Linked DNA regions of Homo sapiens: region 1 is linked to region 2. The links come from fine-mapping of genetic effects on gene expression. Tissue or cell type: adrenal gland. Region 2 holds a variant in brackets; the other region holds the start of a gene. All regions are shown on one strand. Distances are between the middles of the regions.

Region 1 (8,102 bases), 70 kb after region 2:
CCTCAGCAGCTAAGGGCTCACTTTCATAAGCAAAAATCTCCGTGTTTGCAGGGTGAAGCTGGTCTCCACTTTATCGCAAATGTCTTCAAGTGTTTTCTGAAGCCCCCTCCTGCAGCCTGGGTGTGTCACTCAGGCTTCAAGTGATCTAGATCACATTTGGGAACTTGGATGTCAGTTCAGCAAACTCTTCTCGGGCAAATCTGAGGCCAGGCCTGGGGCAGGCCAATGACTACCGCCTCATACAGTGAAGGCGCATGGGCCATCTGGGAAGGACCAGTTTCCCCTCAAGTAGAATCCTAGCAAGCATCTTCCCCCTTGAGCCACAGAAGCTATAGCCAGAGGCAGGGAGAGCTGGGCACAATGTGGCAGCACCCTCTGCTGCCTCCAGCTCCTGCCTCCAGGGGAGGGGGGCATTAAAGCACATGGAACACAGAAAAAAAGAAATGAAAGAAAATAGTTTTAATGCCAAAACTATTCAGCCAGCTGGAGGGGTCTAAAAGCATTTTAGGACTTGAAATCAGCAGAGTACCTCGGGCTAGCCCTTAGGAAGAGCAATTATCATTATGCTATGAATGCAAGAATACTGGTTAAAGGTTTCTCTCTGATCAAACAGACAGAAGAGAGAAACGGACGCCCAGCGGTCAGTTGCTCAGGCACTAGAGCCTGAGTTGAATCCTGGCTTAACTACTTACTAATCAGGTGACTTATGTGCCTCAGCTTCCTCCTCTGTAAAATGGAGCTTATATTAGTACCCACTTCGTAACACTGGTGTGGGCACTGAGAGTGAATATTTGTGAAGGGCATCTGTGGTACCTGGCACACACGAAGCACTTGCTAAAGGCTCTTAGTAATAAGATATTTATTACCATATACTAATTCAACCCATTTTTAGGATTTTTTCACTCTCCCCATAGTAAGCTTCTACAGAACCCGAAAAAAATTACAGGCTTGGGGTTAAATCATCCATACTCCCTCTTTCACATACTTCCTAGCATCTCTGTGATTGGTGCTGAATCTTCTGGAATGCAATTTGAAATGGAGTTGACTTAAGTTAACTGAGGGAAGATTCAGTATATGGACAAGGTAGTGACTGGTAACACTTAGTGCAGTAAAACCTCTGCAAATTGGAACTGGAAAAAAAAAATGGCCGGGCACATGGCTCACACCTGTAATTTCAGCACTGTGGGAGGCCACGGCCGGTGGATCACTTGAGGTCAGGAGTTTGAGACCAGGCTGGCCAACATGGTGAAACCCTGTATCTACTAAAAATACAAAAATTAGCCAGGCGGGGTGGTGGGATCCTGTACTCCCAGCTACTCGGGAGGCTGAGGCACGAGAATCACTTGAGCCCAGGAAGCGGATGTTGCGGTGTGCCGAGATCAGCCACTGCACTCCAGCCTGGGCGACAGAGCAAGACTCCGTCTCAAAAAACCAAAACCAAAACCAAAACCAAAACCAAAAAAAAAACAAAACAAAAAACAAAAAAAAAAACCAGGTCCTTATTGACATTTTCCTCGCTCTTTGCTTTTAGGAAAAAGCAGCAAATTCCAACAAGAGAGAAGTATCACTGGATGGCAAACGGAGAGTGGGGTCCCAGCCTCACTCTGAGGGCAGGTATGACCTCAGGAAAAGCACTTCCCCGGTGGGCCCTGGAGTCCCTGTGTCAAAGGAGGGCTGCACAGGATTCTAACTGCACTTCAAGTCCCCATGTCTCCTCCAGTCAGGGGAACTCTGCTTTCATATGGCTCACATTACGAGTTCCACTGAAGGTTTCATTAGTGGGGAAAAGGGCTTTGCCGCTAAGAAAGAACACTGGAACCAGAATTTGAAGGTCTGAAATGTGCCAAGTGAGCTGTGGCTGTGAACGCATGGTGACGATTTGGTCCACACAGCGTGGCTCAAAGCAGCATTTTCTAAACCTGCCTGCACAGCACAGACCCCTGAGTTGGTAGCGAGGGTTCCCTACAAAGGGGTTCCCTGGGCAGTAGGTTTGACAGATACTCCTTTTTGGAGAGTCAAAATAACCACTGGTCAAATCTCCATGAATGCCACATTAAGGCACTTTTTAACTTTCACTCAACAACGAGTATAGGACCTGTGGAACTCAGACCCCTGGCCACTGTCATTGCAAAGGGACACAAGTGCTCACAAGTGGAAATCGGTACACACTGGGTCAGTCCCTGTCCCTGCTCTAGCTATGGCAAAGCCCCAAGAGAACACTTTGAAAAGTTATGAGGCGGAAGCCAAACAAAACCCACAACTCAAAAGATTAAATCCCAATGTAGTACCATATTGCATTCTATGATTTCCCATCTAGCCTGTAGCTCTTTGCATACTGAAAGTCTAGGGCAGTGCTGGGGACCCAGGGAGAATCAACAGGTATTTACTCATCACCTGTGGATACCTGTCACATCACCGCAGTCATTCCATATGACAACCCCCATGTTCCTCTCACTTCTAATTTTTAAAAGTCAGTCTCAAATCTTTAACTCACAGCTGCAAACTGTACTCTTAAAATATTTGTGAAATTGTGCAGATGTTATTTCCATCTGTCCTTTTGAGAACTACTGATAGTGTGATTTGGGAATATTTCCAATTCTGGCTGAGGCAGGGCAGGGCGAGGGCCAAACGCTAGGGCTGGACTGGGCATAGTTTACATCAGCCACAGGTGTCACCCCGCCGGTGTCAGAGGGTTTGCTTCCCTGAAATAGTAACTGTTTATATCACTCTGCACTTGTAATAACATCCTGCCAAAGGGCCCCACTTTCCCACAACTTTTACACTACGCAGAGATCTGACGTCAGCGTGTGCTGTGAGCAAAACATCTTCGATCAAGCTCTGTTCTGCATGAGGGTTGCTGCCCCTCCCAAGATCAAACAAGGCAGCCGCCCAGAGAGCCACAACTGCGGCTTCCAACTGGGAAATCATATTGGCAAAATAAAAACCGTTTTGGAAATTAATTTGAGTTTTCCCCTGAGGAGCGCTATAGACAGCGGGGCTACCATAAGCCGTCACTTCTGCAAGTGAGAGAGGTTTCTCGGTTGACTCTTAGATCTGGGTCTACTGAGTCTACGGAGCACGGAAAATGGAAGGAAAACCTAGAGCTAACAGGGTGGCCTATCAGGATGCGCCCAGTCACGCTTGTCAAGAGTTAAAGCAGCTGCCACCTAACCCCATGACGAGGACGGGGCTATCCGCTAGGACCTGCCGCCCCGCGCTCGCCCGCTGAGTCGATGGACCAGCGGACCGAGTCCGGGTCCCCATGCCATTCGGGCACCCTCTGGGCGGGCCCTACCGGTCCGCGACGCCGCGCCCCTGGTGAAGGGGCCGCTGCCCCACGCCGTCAAGGGCAGGGTGCTGGGGCGACGGCAGCGGGTATGGGGTCAGCGCGCCATCCCCGCGCACGGACCTGCCGCTCCTCGGCCTGTATCCCGTACTCCTCGCGCATCCGCAGCAGCGCGTCCTCCAGCCGCGCGCGCAGCTGCTCCAACCCGAGCGCCTCGCGCCGCAGCGCCTCTGCCTCCTGCGCGCACAGCCGCGTCTCTTCCTCCGCCTGGAGTCTGCTCTCCTGGCCGCGCCGCAGCGCCTCCTCCAGCTCGCGCACCTCGTCCTCGTACAGCTGCACCGTCTCCCGCCACGACTCGGCCACCAGCAGTGCGTAGCTGTCGTGCACCTCCCGCAGGCGTGGCGGCGGCGCGGCGGGGCCGGTGGCGCGGGCGCGGAAATGCATGGTAAGGCTGGCGGCGCGCGCGCGCAGCTCCCTCACGTCGCGTTCGTGGGCCGCGTCGAGGCCTCGGCGCTCGGCCTGCAGCCGGCCCAGCAGCGCCTCGAGGGCGGCGCGCGCGCCCAGCGCCTCCTGCAGCTCGCGCTGCTGCGCACCCAGCTCGGCGTCCAGGCGGCCGCGGGCGGCGCGCTCCTCCGCATCCAGGCGCTGCAGCTCCCGCAGCTCGCGCCGCAGAGCGTCCCGCTCGCCCTCCGCCAGCGCAGTGGCCCAGCTCAGCTCGTCCAGCTGCTGCCGCAAGCTGCGCGCCTCCTCGGCGCAGCGGGCCTGCCCCTCGGCCCACAGGCCCTCTCGCCCGCGCCGGCCGCGCAGCTCCTCCTCCAGGAGTAGGTTTTCGCGCTCCAGCTCCCGCACCCGACACACGTAGTCATAGAGCCGGGCGTTGAGCTCCTGGAGCTCGGCCTTCTCGGGGCCCGTCTGCAGCCGCCAGGACAGCATCTTGCCGGGCGTGCGGGGTTCTCGCGGCTGGCCGGCTCCCTCCTGCCCTGGTCTTGTCCCGGTCTCGTCCTCTCCGCCGCGACGCTCCGGCCTCGCCGCTGCCCCGGAGGCCCGCAGACTGGGACGCGAGCGGGAGAGCCCAGGCACTTAGCGGACGGGGCGGGCAGACTGGGCGGGCGGCCTGGGCGAGGGCCGCGGCCTCCAGCCAATCAGAGCGCGGCCCGGCGCGGCCTCTGCGGCCGCACAGCGCCCCCTGCCGCACCTTGGCGGCCGCAGGTGGTCGGTGCGGGCAGTCGGGTAACAGCGGGCGGGGTGGCGGGCTAGCCAGGCCGGGCTCAGCGAAGGGACGCCGGAGAGGGCGTCCGGGAGCATACGAGTGTCCTGGCCTTGGTGGATGGAAATAGAAGCCTATTGAGTTGCTGTGGTGCTGGCGATTTTGGAGCGACTTCTTACCCGAGGCCCTGGAGATTGGTGGCTTTTCTATTTTTAAAAAAACGATATGGGCCGGGCGCGGTGGCTCAGGCCTATAATCCCAGCATTTTGGGAAGCCGAGGTGGGAGGCTCGCTTGAGCCCAGGAGTTCGAGACCAGCCTGAGCAACATAGAGAGACCCTGTCTCTACCAAAAAAAAAAAAAAAAAAAAAATATATATATATATATATATATATGGAGCCTGGCGTGGTGGTGTCACACGCGCTGCTTGGGAGGCTGAGGCGGGAGGATTACTCGAACCCAGGAGTTCAGGGCTGCAGTGAACCTGATTGTGGCACTGCGCTCCAGCCTGGGCAACAGAGAGAGGCCTCATCTCATATATATACATTACACATACATGTGCATTAATTTTTTTTTTTTTTTTTTTGAGACAGAGTGTCGCTCTTGTTGCCCAGGCTGGAGTGCAATGGCACGATCTCGGCTCACCACAGCCTCCGCCTCCCGGGTTCAAGCGATTCTCCTGCCTCAGCCTCCCGAGTAACCGGGATTACAGGCCAGCGCCACCACGCCTGGCTAATTTTTTTTTTTTTTTTTTTTTTTTTTTTTTGTATTTTTGGTAGAGACGGGGTTTCTCCATGTTGGTCAGGCTGGTCTCGAACTCACGACCTCAGGTGATCCGCCCACCTCGGCCTCCCAAAGTCCTGGGATTACTGGCGTGAGCTACCGTGCCCAGCCTAAATAATCTTTTTAACTTAAAACATAAATATATATCCATTTACCAGTATTTTAATGTGCAAAATACTTCTCTTGATGTCAGTTGACAGGAGTCCCAGTTGCCCTTCTTATACAAGCTACCCTCATAGTACATTACATTTTCCAAAACGAATTTCTTTCATTTGGAGTGAAAACTTAGAGACCATAAAGTGCTCCAAGTACAGAACTTTCTAGACATCTAACATCTCCCCGAACTTTTACAAATCTCACACACACACCCCTAATGTGACAGCTGTTTCTTTCCAGCATTTCCCTAAGAAAGTATTCAGTTTAATTGCCATGGAAACCACAGCTCTTTTTTGTACACTTGCATTTCATTAGTTTTCATGGCAGTTATTTATGAATGACAGTTCTCAGTATAAGTGTCATTAAGGCTCACAGGGACAAACCAGCTGACCCTTGGTTGGGGTGCCCTTGAACTTGTGGCAACACAAGTGCCCAGGGCGAGACCTGGACGGTCATCCACTGGCCAGAGGGCTCCTCATGGCAGGGCCAGCAGTTAGTGTATTTTACAGATGGCATGGAAAGGTGGACTACTCAGCAAGCTGGTCCAGGGCCTCTGACAAAGCTTCTAGTGCTCTCCTTGTCACAGCCATGAGCCTCCAATCACAAGCAAGGCAGAAAGTGGCCCTTCCTTTTTCTAGAGACCCTATGTTGGAGATCCCATTCTGTAGGTGGTAGAAATTAATATCTTTCAATGAATAATTCCCTGTCCTTTTCTGCTAAAACTAAGTGGGGGTGGAAAGTGGGTTTATTCAGTGCTTGGGTTCATTCACCTTGGTGTGGGACAGGGGGATTTGGACCCCCATCACCCCATCATTGTCCATCCTCCCATTCCCCCAGGTGCACACTGACACCTGGCCTTTGCTTGTCAAACACCAGAGCTGCTGTGGTGTCATCGCCCAAACCTATGTGGAGACCCTGCCGGTCCTGGGCCCCTCTGGGACATTGGGGTGCGGGGGGGCGGCTCTCACAGTTGCCTGGACTCCGCTGCAGCTGTTTGTTCTCAGCTCTTTGACTCCCCACGCTAACGGGTTCTGCTGTCCCACATCCCCTGGCTGGGCAGGGGGCAGCCCTGCAGGGTGGGAGAGCCTTCTCAGGGACCAGTGAGTCCCAGCAGGACACTTTGCAGTGACTCATTAGTCTTTCTTTGCCCAGTGCCCTTCAGGGTCTTGGACTTTGAAACTCAAAACCCTTTCCCCCATTTCTGCTGTAAATCCTGTCCCTGAGGAATTGACTGCTCCAGCATGCAGCTGCCCCGGTAGGGAAAGAGTTATAGGGGATCAGGAACTAGCAGGGCCGGGAGGTGGGAGGGGGGAAGTACCCCCAGCTACTCTTTCAGGATAATATCCTGCTGCTTCATACTGAATCCTCACAACACTGAAGCTCGGAGGGGTGAAGTGACTAGAAGTATTAGAGTTGTGACCACAAGAGCAGACTTGAGCAGGCAGGGTCTGGCCAGGAAGCAGAGGCAAACTCAGAGGGAAGGGAATGATTGATGGGATGGGGATGGATGGGATGAGGAAGCACCAGGGACCAGCAAGAGCAAGAAGCTAAGAAGCCGTTAGCGCCTTAGGGTGTTGGCTGAGCCTGGAGAAGCCCAGAGCGCTGGAAAAGAGGAGCAGAATGGATCCCAGGAGGGAGCAAGAGGAGGAAAACCCAGTTCTTCCTTCATCCAAGCCTCCCTTCTCTTGCCAATACTTCCCGCTGTGGAAGCCAGAAGTCACAGGAGCCTGGCAGTGGTGCACTGCGGTTGGCTCCCACAGGTTTGTGAGTGCCAACTGTTAAATTTTTAGAATTTTATGAACCACTTGTTAAACACAGCCATTATTAAAAATTAATTATAGAAGCTTACAACTAATTATACAAAAAGAGCAAACACATATTCAAAACGTATCACTTCCTCAGTATTTCACTGCATTTTCCTATGATCTGCTCTTGAAGTTATGAATGAGCAGTGTGCCTGCACCATAGAAATGCCATTTAATGTGTACTACCCTACTCCATATTCACTGACATCATGTTGGTAGCTTGAGTATTTACAACACAGAAATCAGCCAATGACTTGTTTTTGTGGATTTGATGTTTTGTTGATTGTCTAGCCTTTAAAAGCAGTGGAGAGTATGTTAATAGTGCAGATTAAATTTAGTGGTATGTTGTGTGTCTAGCTATTGAATTGTGAACAGCACAAAAACGTGAGGAAATGTTTGTCCGGTGTCTCGAAACTTGTATCCAGATCAGGAAAGAAGTTGCTTCATAGCTGGGCGTGGTGGCTTACACTCGTAATACCAAGACTTTGGGAGGCCAAGGCATGCAGAGCACTTGAGCTCAGGAGTTCGAGACCAGCCTGGACATGGCAAAACCCCCTCTCTACAAAAAATACAAAAATTAACTGGGCATGGTGGCATGCACCTGTAATCCCAGCTACTTGGGAGGCTGAAGTGAGAGGATTCCTTGAGCCCAGGAGATCGAGGTTTTGGTGAGCCATGATTGAGCCGTTGCACTCCAGCCTGGGTAGCAGAGTGAGATCCTGTCTTAACAAAATTTAAAAATACAAAAAAAATTTAAAAAGAAGTTACATCATGATGAAGAATAAATGAAATTTCTCAGTTATTTCACCTTTGTCTTTCTTGCTAAGGTAAACAAAAATATCAATCAATATTCATGGTGCTGCATTC
Region 2 (8,102 bases):
TTTACAAGTTGCTTCGTTCACTCAGTGGTATGTTTTTGAAATACAACCATGTTAACATATGTAGATGGAGTTCAATCAAGAACTTGTAGAATAAACCACAATATGTTCATTCCCCTGCTGATAGATATTTAGGTGGTTCCCCATTTTTTACCATCTCAATTAATGCATCAGTGGAGGGCATTTTCAACACAGGCAATGGGCGGTGCCCATTAAGCTGGACAAGAAGGGAAGGACAGCAGGAGGGTTGGATGACTAGTGAGAATGTCAGGGGGCGGTGGAGTAGATGTGCATGGAGGCAATAGATCTAGGGCCCCCCAAGAGCCAAAATGGGTCTGTGAGTTGGAGGATCCAGTGGTAACACAGAGTGGGCGATGATGAGGTCTGGAGTGTGACCCAGGGACTGGGCACCTGAGAGTAAGGAGGAAAGTAAGTTTGTCAGAAACCTGAGAGGCCAAGGTGTTGGCTAGGTCGTTGGCTGGACATTTCCGTGTGGTCCTTCAGCTACACTGTGCATCCTTCTCAGCCCTGCTCTGTGCCCCAGAGGCTGACCTTTAATTACCATCTCAGTGCCCTTTCCCTCAGACTGAGAGATACACAGCCTGGACCAGGGAAGACATGGAGACAGAGCATCCATTCCTCCAGCCCCTCCCCTCAAGGTCCCTGCAGGTAGGCCGTGTCTCTACTGAAACCCACCGCTCATTTCCCTACAATTCTTCTTTCTGGTTATAGCAAATGCCCCCAGCACCTTGTCTTGGGAGCCAGCGTGCTCATCTTGGGTTTCCTCCATGCCAGGGATCATTTTATTGACCTCTTTTCCTCCATTAACCTGTTTACATGTGCCATCTCTTTCCTGCCTGATTGAGTACAGGCCAATCTCATGCATACTGAAATCTTGGGAAATGATGACAAGAGTAAGGGTAGATAGGAAGTCAGTTAGCTGGGTGCAAAAACCTAGTGAGGGGCAGTGTCTGTAAATCTGCATAAAATACAAACTATCCTACATTTTTGTAGTTCACATGTGAGCTCCTTTAAAACTAAAATTCCTGCCTAAATTTTTAGGGGAATTTCTAATGTTAGCACAATATCTGGCATGTAGAAAGCATTTAAAAATGAACATAAGTTGAATAGGACTGAATTAAATTAAATGGAATTAAATTGAATTTTACTGAATAAATGAGATGCTAATTTTGCACATTTTAGACATCCTGGGTGTTCCCCCGTCAAACCCCCTTCCCTCTAGCATATGGTTTATAAAAGCTTCATGAACATCAAATAAATTACATTAGGGATTGAGTTTCTGAAGTGAATAATGAATAATAAATGTTTGCTTATGTTAGCATTTCATGTAGAAAAATGTTTAAGTCATGAAAATTTTGTGATAAATTCAGATCCCTTTAAGCTTTCAGGACCCACTTTCTTTTTTTATTTTTTGAGACAGAGTCTTGCTTTGTCACTCAAGCTGGAGTGCAGTACACGATCACGGCTCACTGCAGTCTTGATCTCCCAGGATCAAGTGATCTTCCCACCTCAGCGTCCTGCGTAGCTGGGACTACAGGTGTATGCCACCACCCCTGGCTAATTTTTTTTATTTTTTAGTACAGACAGGGTCTCACTATGTTGCCCAGGCTAGTCTCAAACTCCTGAGCTCAAGTGATCCTCCTGCCTCGGCCTCCCAAGGTGCTGAGATTATAGGCATGAGCCAGCATGCCCAGCCTGACTCACTTTCTTGATATTGTGTGTATTTTGCTCTTGGAAAACTTTGCTTTCTGTCTCCATGGCAAAAAAACAACTTACAGTGTTTTCAGAACATGTAATTATTGATTTGAAAATAATTTTGTTAGACACATATCTATTAACATTTTCTTGAATTTATAATATTGAATAGGAAGAAACAAAATATAAAATCTTTCTTGTTTTGGTTTTAATCTAAAATACTATATGTCTTTGCATCATATGAGTTAAAGCTTTTCTGGCATTACACAGTGATTGTTCTCTCCAAATAACAGATCGTAGAGATAGTAGGGGAAAAGCAAAGTAAACATGGCTCAATTTGCATTTGGTATTTTTTCGGAGGGTGTGGGTATTTCCTCTTTTTTCCTTTCTCCAAACACTACACAAGCAATAATTTGACTCTATCCCTGTGGCTGCTATTGTCTATATACACATGAAGTTGAATTTCATAGTGCCCGTTATTTGGAAAACATTTAAGTCAGACCTTAAGATTGGGCCTTTCATGCCAAATCAAGGACAGTGGCTAATTTGGGGTTGCCAAAATCACATATTCAATTCTTTATATTCTGTAATAAGAAAAGTCATTTTAAAGCAAAGGATATTGTTGGCACTTATGAATAAGAAATTCTGACTATTCTAATGCAGCAATAAAAATTATTACCTGCAGTCTTATTTTGGAGTAGCCCCAACATAAAAAGTCCAGAGCTAGTAGCTTAGCAGATTTTAACATGTGACAAGTAAGGTGACAGTCTAGAGTCAAAGATTCTATCTCCGCTCTGATTATAGTCTCAGAAATGCATTCGGCTGGTCATAAGAGGAGGAAGTACTGCATGGTCCAGACTAGAATGCTCAACTGGGATGACTTGATCTCCTGTGCCAGCTGCCATAGATGAATCACAGCTCCTGAGGACTGAATTAGGGTTCCCTGAGGAGTGTGCTGGCATCAATTAGTGATGTCTCCCACCACTGGCTAGGGTGGGGGGAATGGCAGCACTCAGGACATGATAGAGATAGCAGAATTTGAAGTTAGAGGATCAGGGTCAGACTCTTATCTCTATCTCTTATTAGCTGTGAGATATCATAATCACCCATTCAGCAATCTTAGTTTTCTCATGTATAAAATGAAGATAACAATTATCAAGAAAATTAAAATTGGTATCACAAATAAAAAAGAATTAAAGTGCAGCTTACATCTTATGAATTGCTAGTGTGTTTTGCCTATCCCAATCTAGTGTTTTCCTTTTTTATCTTTTTGTGTGTATTTGTGTATGACAGGGTCTTGCTCTGTCACCCAGGCTGAAGTGCAGTGGCATAATCATAACTCATTGCAGCCTCAACCTCCCGGGCTCAAAGCAATTCACCCGCTTTAGCCCTCCCGAGTAGCTGGGACTGCAGGCATATGCCACCATGCCCGGCTAATTTTTGTATTTGTTGTAGAGACAGGGTTTCACCATGTTGCCCAGGCTCATCTTGAACTCCTGAGCTCTAGCAATCTCCAGCCTCAGTCCCCCAAACTGCTGGGAGTACAGTTGTGAGCCACCATGCCTGGCCTACTCATGGCATTTTAGTATTCTGTCACTCTTTTGGCAATTAATTGTGAACTACCTACCTACTGACTCACATTAGTGTATTATCTTACTTCACCGTATTTTATTTTTTGTACTGCACACACTTTCTAGCCCATGCCTCTCCTATAGTAGGCAATCCTAAGTGTGAATGAATGTAAACATGTTACTAATAGTATTTTAAAACTCCAAATGCTGACAGGGAGTTGAGTAGTTACTTTTTATTTGAAAGCAGGTATTTTGCATGTTATTTGAAAGGACTATTGTGATTTTATGTTCAGAAGATCATAGTTTTTTGTTTGTTGTTTAAAAACTTTTATTTTTTGAGACAGAGTCTCTGTCACCCAGGCTAGAGTGCAGTGGTGCAATCTCGGCCCACTGCAACCTCCACCTCCCAGGTTCAAGCTGTTCTCGTGCCTCAGCCTTCCAAATAGCTGGGACTATAGGCGTGCACCACCATACCCGGCTAATTTTTATATTTTTATTAGAGATGAGGTTTCACCATGTTGGCCAGGCTGGTCTTGAACTCCTGACCTCAAGTGATCCACCTGCCTTGGCCTCCCAAAGTGCTGGGATTACAGACATGAGCCACCGCGCCTGGGCAACAACATTTTAGTGGACTTTATTTTCAAGGAACTGAGCTGCTTTCTGTGCTTGGGCAGCTCCCCTGAGCAAGTTTGTAGAGGGTGCAGGCAAATGGGCTTGGTGGCACAGGCACAAAGGAGGGGTCTGTATATCTGTGGGGAGACTGCTGACACCCACCGGTAGGTCCCACTTTTGGGGCTGGCGGGTAGGCAGGGCACTGGGCTTGCCCACTGTCTGCACAGCATCGACACCTTCTATTCATCTCTTTACTTCTTGTAACTCCCCTTCCTTTGCTGACACTGGACTCAAAGGATCATAGACGTTTAATGATTTGCTTAGTGACAGGCCCTGGCCATAGCATTGAGCCATCTGGATTCATTGTCCAGTGTTCCCTCCACCACTCAGACCTTTTAAAATCCAGCTTTCCTGCGAGTTGATTTCACTTCCACATAAATCATTTCTTCTAGCTTGCTGGAAAGTTCCTTGGCTTTCTGCTTATCTCTGCAAGGACAGTTAATTCCCTGCTGCTGCTGCCAAGTATGTAAACAACATGTTTCTTCTTTCTGTGGTGACAGGCACATCTTATCATCCTGAGTAGAAGCCCCTCTCAAGTGGAGGCAGCAGACTCGGCACACATCGTCGCCCATGCTGCTGTCGCTTCAGGGAGACACGAGCACCATGGTGAGAAGAATCCTTTTCTCTTCCTGTCTCACAGGCATCTGGGTCTATAAACGAGCTGCCTTCTAGATGGGTTAACAGGTGGACAGAGCCGCGACACAGGCCCGCCACAGAGCCTTCCTTGTTTTATCTGATCATCTGCCCCTATGCTACTCTGCTGCTTTCCTCTGAGTCCTTTGGTTTCTCTCCCCTTCTTCTAGCCTTCTTCTAGTCTTTTATTCTTAAATACAGCCAATCTCTATCCAAATGTTAGCTGTTAAGAGCCCCAGAGCATCTGTACTGGGCTT[A/TA]CGGTAAATCTGCTCTGCTTTCAAAGGTGATCTATTTTTAAAGATTGTTGTGGCAACAGCTCTGGCCTCTGGGCCAGCCGGCCTCCAGGCACTGTCAGGGCTGAACTTTCCATCAGGATGAACTTACACGGCTTCAGGATTCCAAAAGGAAGTTGCCATTTATGGCTTTTTCTTAGGGTTTTTCTTATCCCCGCGTAATAGGTAGAGCATCAAGCTTCAGGAATTATTTAATCCACGTACAGAGCATACAATGTGCCTCCGTTGGCAGAAAACACATAGTACTAATGATTTTTTTTTTTTTTTGGTCATAATATTCAGAAATGGAGTACAATTCATAAAGAAGACCTAGGGGTGTATTCCAAGATATCAGATAAAAATAATTACATACTGAATAAAATAAGGTCCACTGTGCTCAAAAGCATAAAATCAACATCTGGAAGGCATGGGGTTGATTCAGGAAGTAGAAGTCAGGCTAAAATGAGGCCAGCACATGGGAGAAGGTGAAGGGAAAGCTTCAATGAGCAGCCTGGTCTGAAAAGATCCATGGGCCAGGCAGGGAGCTTCGGTCCACAGAGGAACTGATGAAGGGGGCATCGGCATTTATCCATCTGTCCATCACACCTTGCAGATCTCTCATTCTGGCCTACTAGAGCTTGAAGCACCTTTTTAGATCTGGAGGAGCCTGTGTAAGGATGGAGAGAGGAGACAGGTGACCTTTCTTGTCCCTGCTCCCTAGAACATTCCACACTAACCATCAGGTTTGCTTGTTGGTGCCTAAAATTCATGTAATAGGAGGAAAGTACTTTCTATTCCATACCTATTAATAAAACACTTAAAATACATGTTTGATGGAAACTCCTAGAATAGCAAGTCACAAATCTAAATGTCTACAGGAACCAAGCAAGCAATGTGAGTGAAGCAGGTGGTTATCAGAAACCAGCAGCAGCAGCAAGCATAGTTATAAATGGCAGCTAACTGATGGCTGTAGTATGAGAGAGACGAAACAGAGTGGTGAGGATTGTGGCAAACTAAAACCCATACCTGCTACTTAAGCTCCAGCCCTGGCAGCCATGTGGAAGGGAGGCTTATATTGGCAGAGCTCCTTTTTTAAGAGAAGGTGGAAATTTGGAGTTTTATTGGAGAATCTTCAATTTTTTTTTAATTATTTTTTATTTTTTTAGAGACAGGGTCTCACTCTGTCACCCAGGCTGGAATGCAGTGGCGCAATTATAGCCCACTGCAGCCTCAGACTCCTGGGCTCAAGTGGTCTTCCTGCCTCAGCCTGCGAAGTAGGTGGGACTACAGGCACACACTGCTTGCACCCAGCTAATTTAAAAAATTCTTTTTTAAAGACAGAGTCTTGCCAAGGATGGTCTTGAACTCCTGGCCCTAGGCTACCCTCCCATCTTGGCTTCCCAAAACTCTGGGATAACAGGCATGAGCCACCACAGACCCAGCCCAATTTTTAACTGATGGTAACTAACTGAAATATGTTTAAGGCTCTGAGTGAGTCAAAACAAGTGCGAAGGCTGGATCCGTGACTTTTGACCTGGAAAGCAAGAGTGACAGGTTGCTGTCAGATCTTTCCTGTTTTCCTTGGGGGCGTAAACTGGCAGAGTAAGGGGAGGTGGGTCCATTCCTGAATGAATACCAAACCAAACAGAGAGGAGGCTAAGGCCAAAAGACCATCTTTTTGCCTAGAGGGATTCTGGTTTCCAGCACTTGACCCAGTGCTCAGTGTACTCACTGCAGGTATGAATTGAGTGGGACCTAGTGAATCTGTGCCCTAGAATGCTATTGTCCCATAGCTGTGAAGTTAGGCCACTCTGCTTTGCATGACTTTTGGAATCAGAGGCAATCCAATTTTAGTTATATATTTTTAAAAAGTTTTCCAGTCTAAATATAGCACTCTATTGCCTTCTCTTAAATTGAAAATGATAATAATACCTACTTGATACAGATGATAAATGTGTGATAATTAAATGACCTCACACAGTTATAATATTAATAGCTACCGCTTATATATGGCATACCAGCAATGGTTCTCACCACACTACATTTATTAATTCAGAAATCCTTGCAACTCGATGAGATAGGTACATTTATCCCCATTTGTTGGATGGAGAAGTTGAGGCACCCAGAGATTAGGTAATTTTTCCAAGGGCCCATAACCAGTGAGTGGTAAAGATATGAACCCAGGCAGCCAACCACCCCAGAGGCTCTTTATGCCATGTCATGTTATAGGGTCTGGCACTTCACATGTCTCCTCCCACCTTAGGCCCACCAAAAGAATCTGTGGGCAGACAAGGGACACAGGAAGAATGAAGGCAGCCCAGAGAAAAGGGTTTGGAGTGCCAATGGGAAGGCCTGGGGCCCAGGAGCATGCGGAGAATCTCAGCTCCAACCTGCAGCAGCTGAGGGCATTCGGTGACATGCACTCAGAAAGCCCACTTGCCAGTCAGAATTGAAATATGTGAGGAGCCACTTTGGGAGGCCAAGATGGGTGGATCACATGAGGTCAGGAGTTCGAGACCAGCCTGGCCAGCATAATGAAACCCCGTCTCTACTGAAAATACAAAAATTAGCCAGGTGTGGTGGTGCGCGCCTGTAGTCCCAGCTACTTGGGAGGCTGAGGCATGAGAGTCACTTGAACCTGGGAGGCAAAGGTTACAGTGAGCCAAGATTGTGCCACTGCACTCCAGCCTGGGCAACACAGCAATACTCTGTCTCCAAAAAAAAAAAAAATGTGAGAAACATAAAGTAGATGGGTAAGAAGACAACTTCTCCCAGGCACAAGGAGTTGGGACTGATAGTTTTACAAATTGGGAAAGGGGGTGACTTCTGCATTAGGCCTGGAGGATTGGTTGCTTGAAGCAGAAGCAAAAGACGACTGAGAGGCCGGGCCCAGTGGCTCACACCTGTAATCCCAGCACTTTGGGAGGCCGAGGTGGGTGGATCACGAGGTCAAGAGATAGAGACCATCAAACCATCCTGGCCAACATGGTGAAACCCCATCTCTACTAAAAATACAAAAAATTAGCTGGGTGTTGTGTTGCGCACCTGTAGTCCCAGCTACTCGGGAGGCTGAGGCATGAGAATCACTTGAACCCTGGAGGCAGAGGTTGCCGTGAGCCGAGATTGTACCACTGCACTACAGCCTGGCGACAGAGCGAGACTCAGTCTCAAAAAAAAAAAAAAAAAAAAAAGACGGAGAGACTCAGGAGCAAGCAAGAATCATAATAGTGACAGTAACAAC

Which allele goes with the higher level. Alleles are on the strand shown, and positions count from the first base shown. SD is a standard deviation of normalised expression in the study named.
For the expression in adrenal gland of the gene that starts at base 4,339 in region 1, allele TA in region 2 goes with a higher level than allele A (moderate effect, 0.45 SD a copy in GTEx).

The links. PIP is the estimated chance that this variant, and not a neighbour inherited with it, causes the effect.
Region 1: it holds the start of SYNM, and the variant in region 2 is fine-mapped to the expression of SYNM in adrenal gland (GTEx, PIP above 0.99). The same link has a PIP of 0.9 or more in ovary.

What each region holds. Positions count from the first base shown.
Region 1 is chr15:99,101,317-99,109,418 of GRCh38, reverse strand. SYNM (synemin) reads right to left here and starts at 4,339. Exons shown (of 4, transcript NM_145728.3): 1 at 3,410-4,339. The coding sequence starts at 4,219. It overlaps SYNM-AS1 (SYNM antisense RNA 1), which reads left to right and starts at 3,542. Exons shown (of 3, transcript NR_187219.1): 1 at 3,542-3,731. RefSeq lists silencers at 3,230-3,399, 3,680-4,589.
Region 2 is chr15:99,171,510-99,179,611 of GRCh38, reverse strand. It overlaps TTC23 (tetratricopeptide repeat domain 23), which reads left to right. Exons shown (of 14, transcript NM_001288615.3): 10 at 4,457-4,562. Among named protein-coding and RNA genes, the nearest start is that of TTC23-AS1, 36 kb to the right of the region's middle. The variant A/TA (reference allele first, on the strand shown) is at 4,847.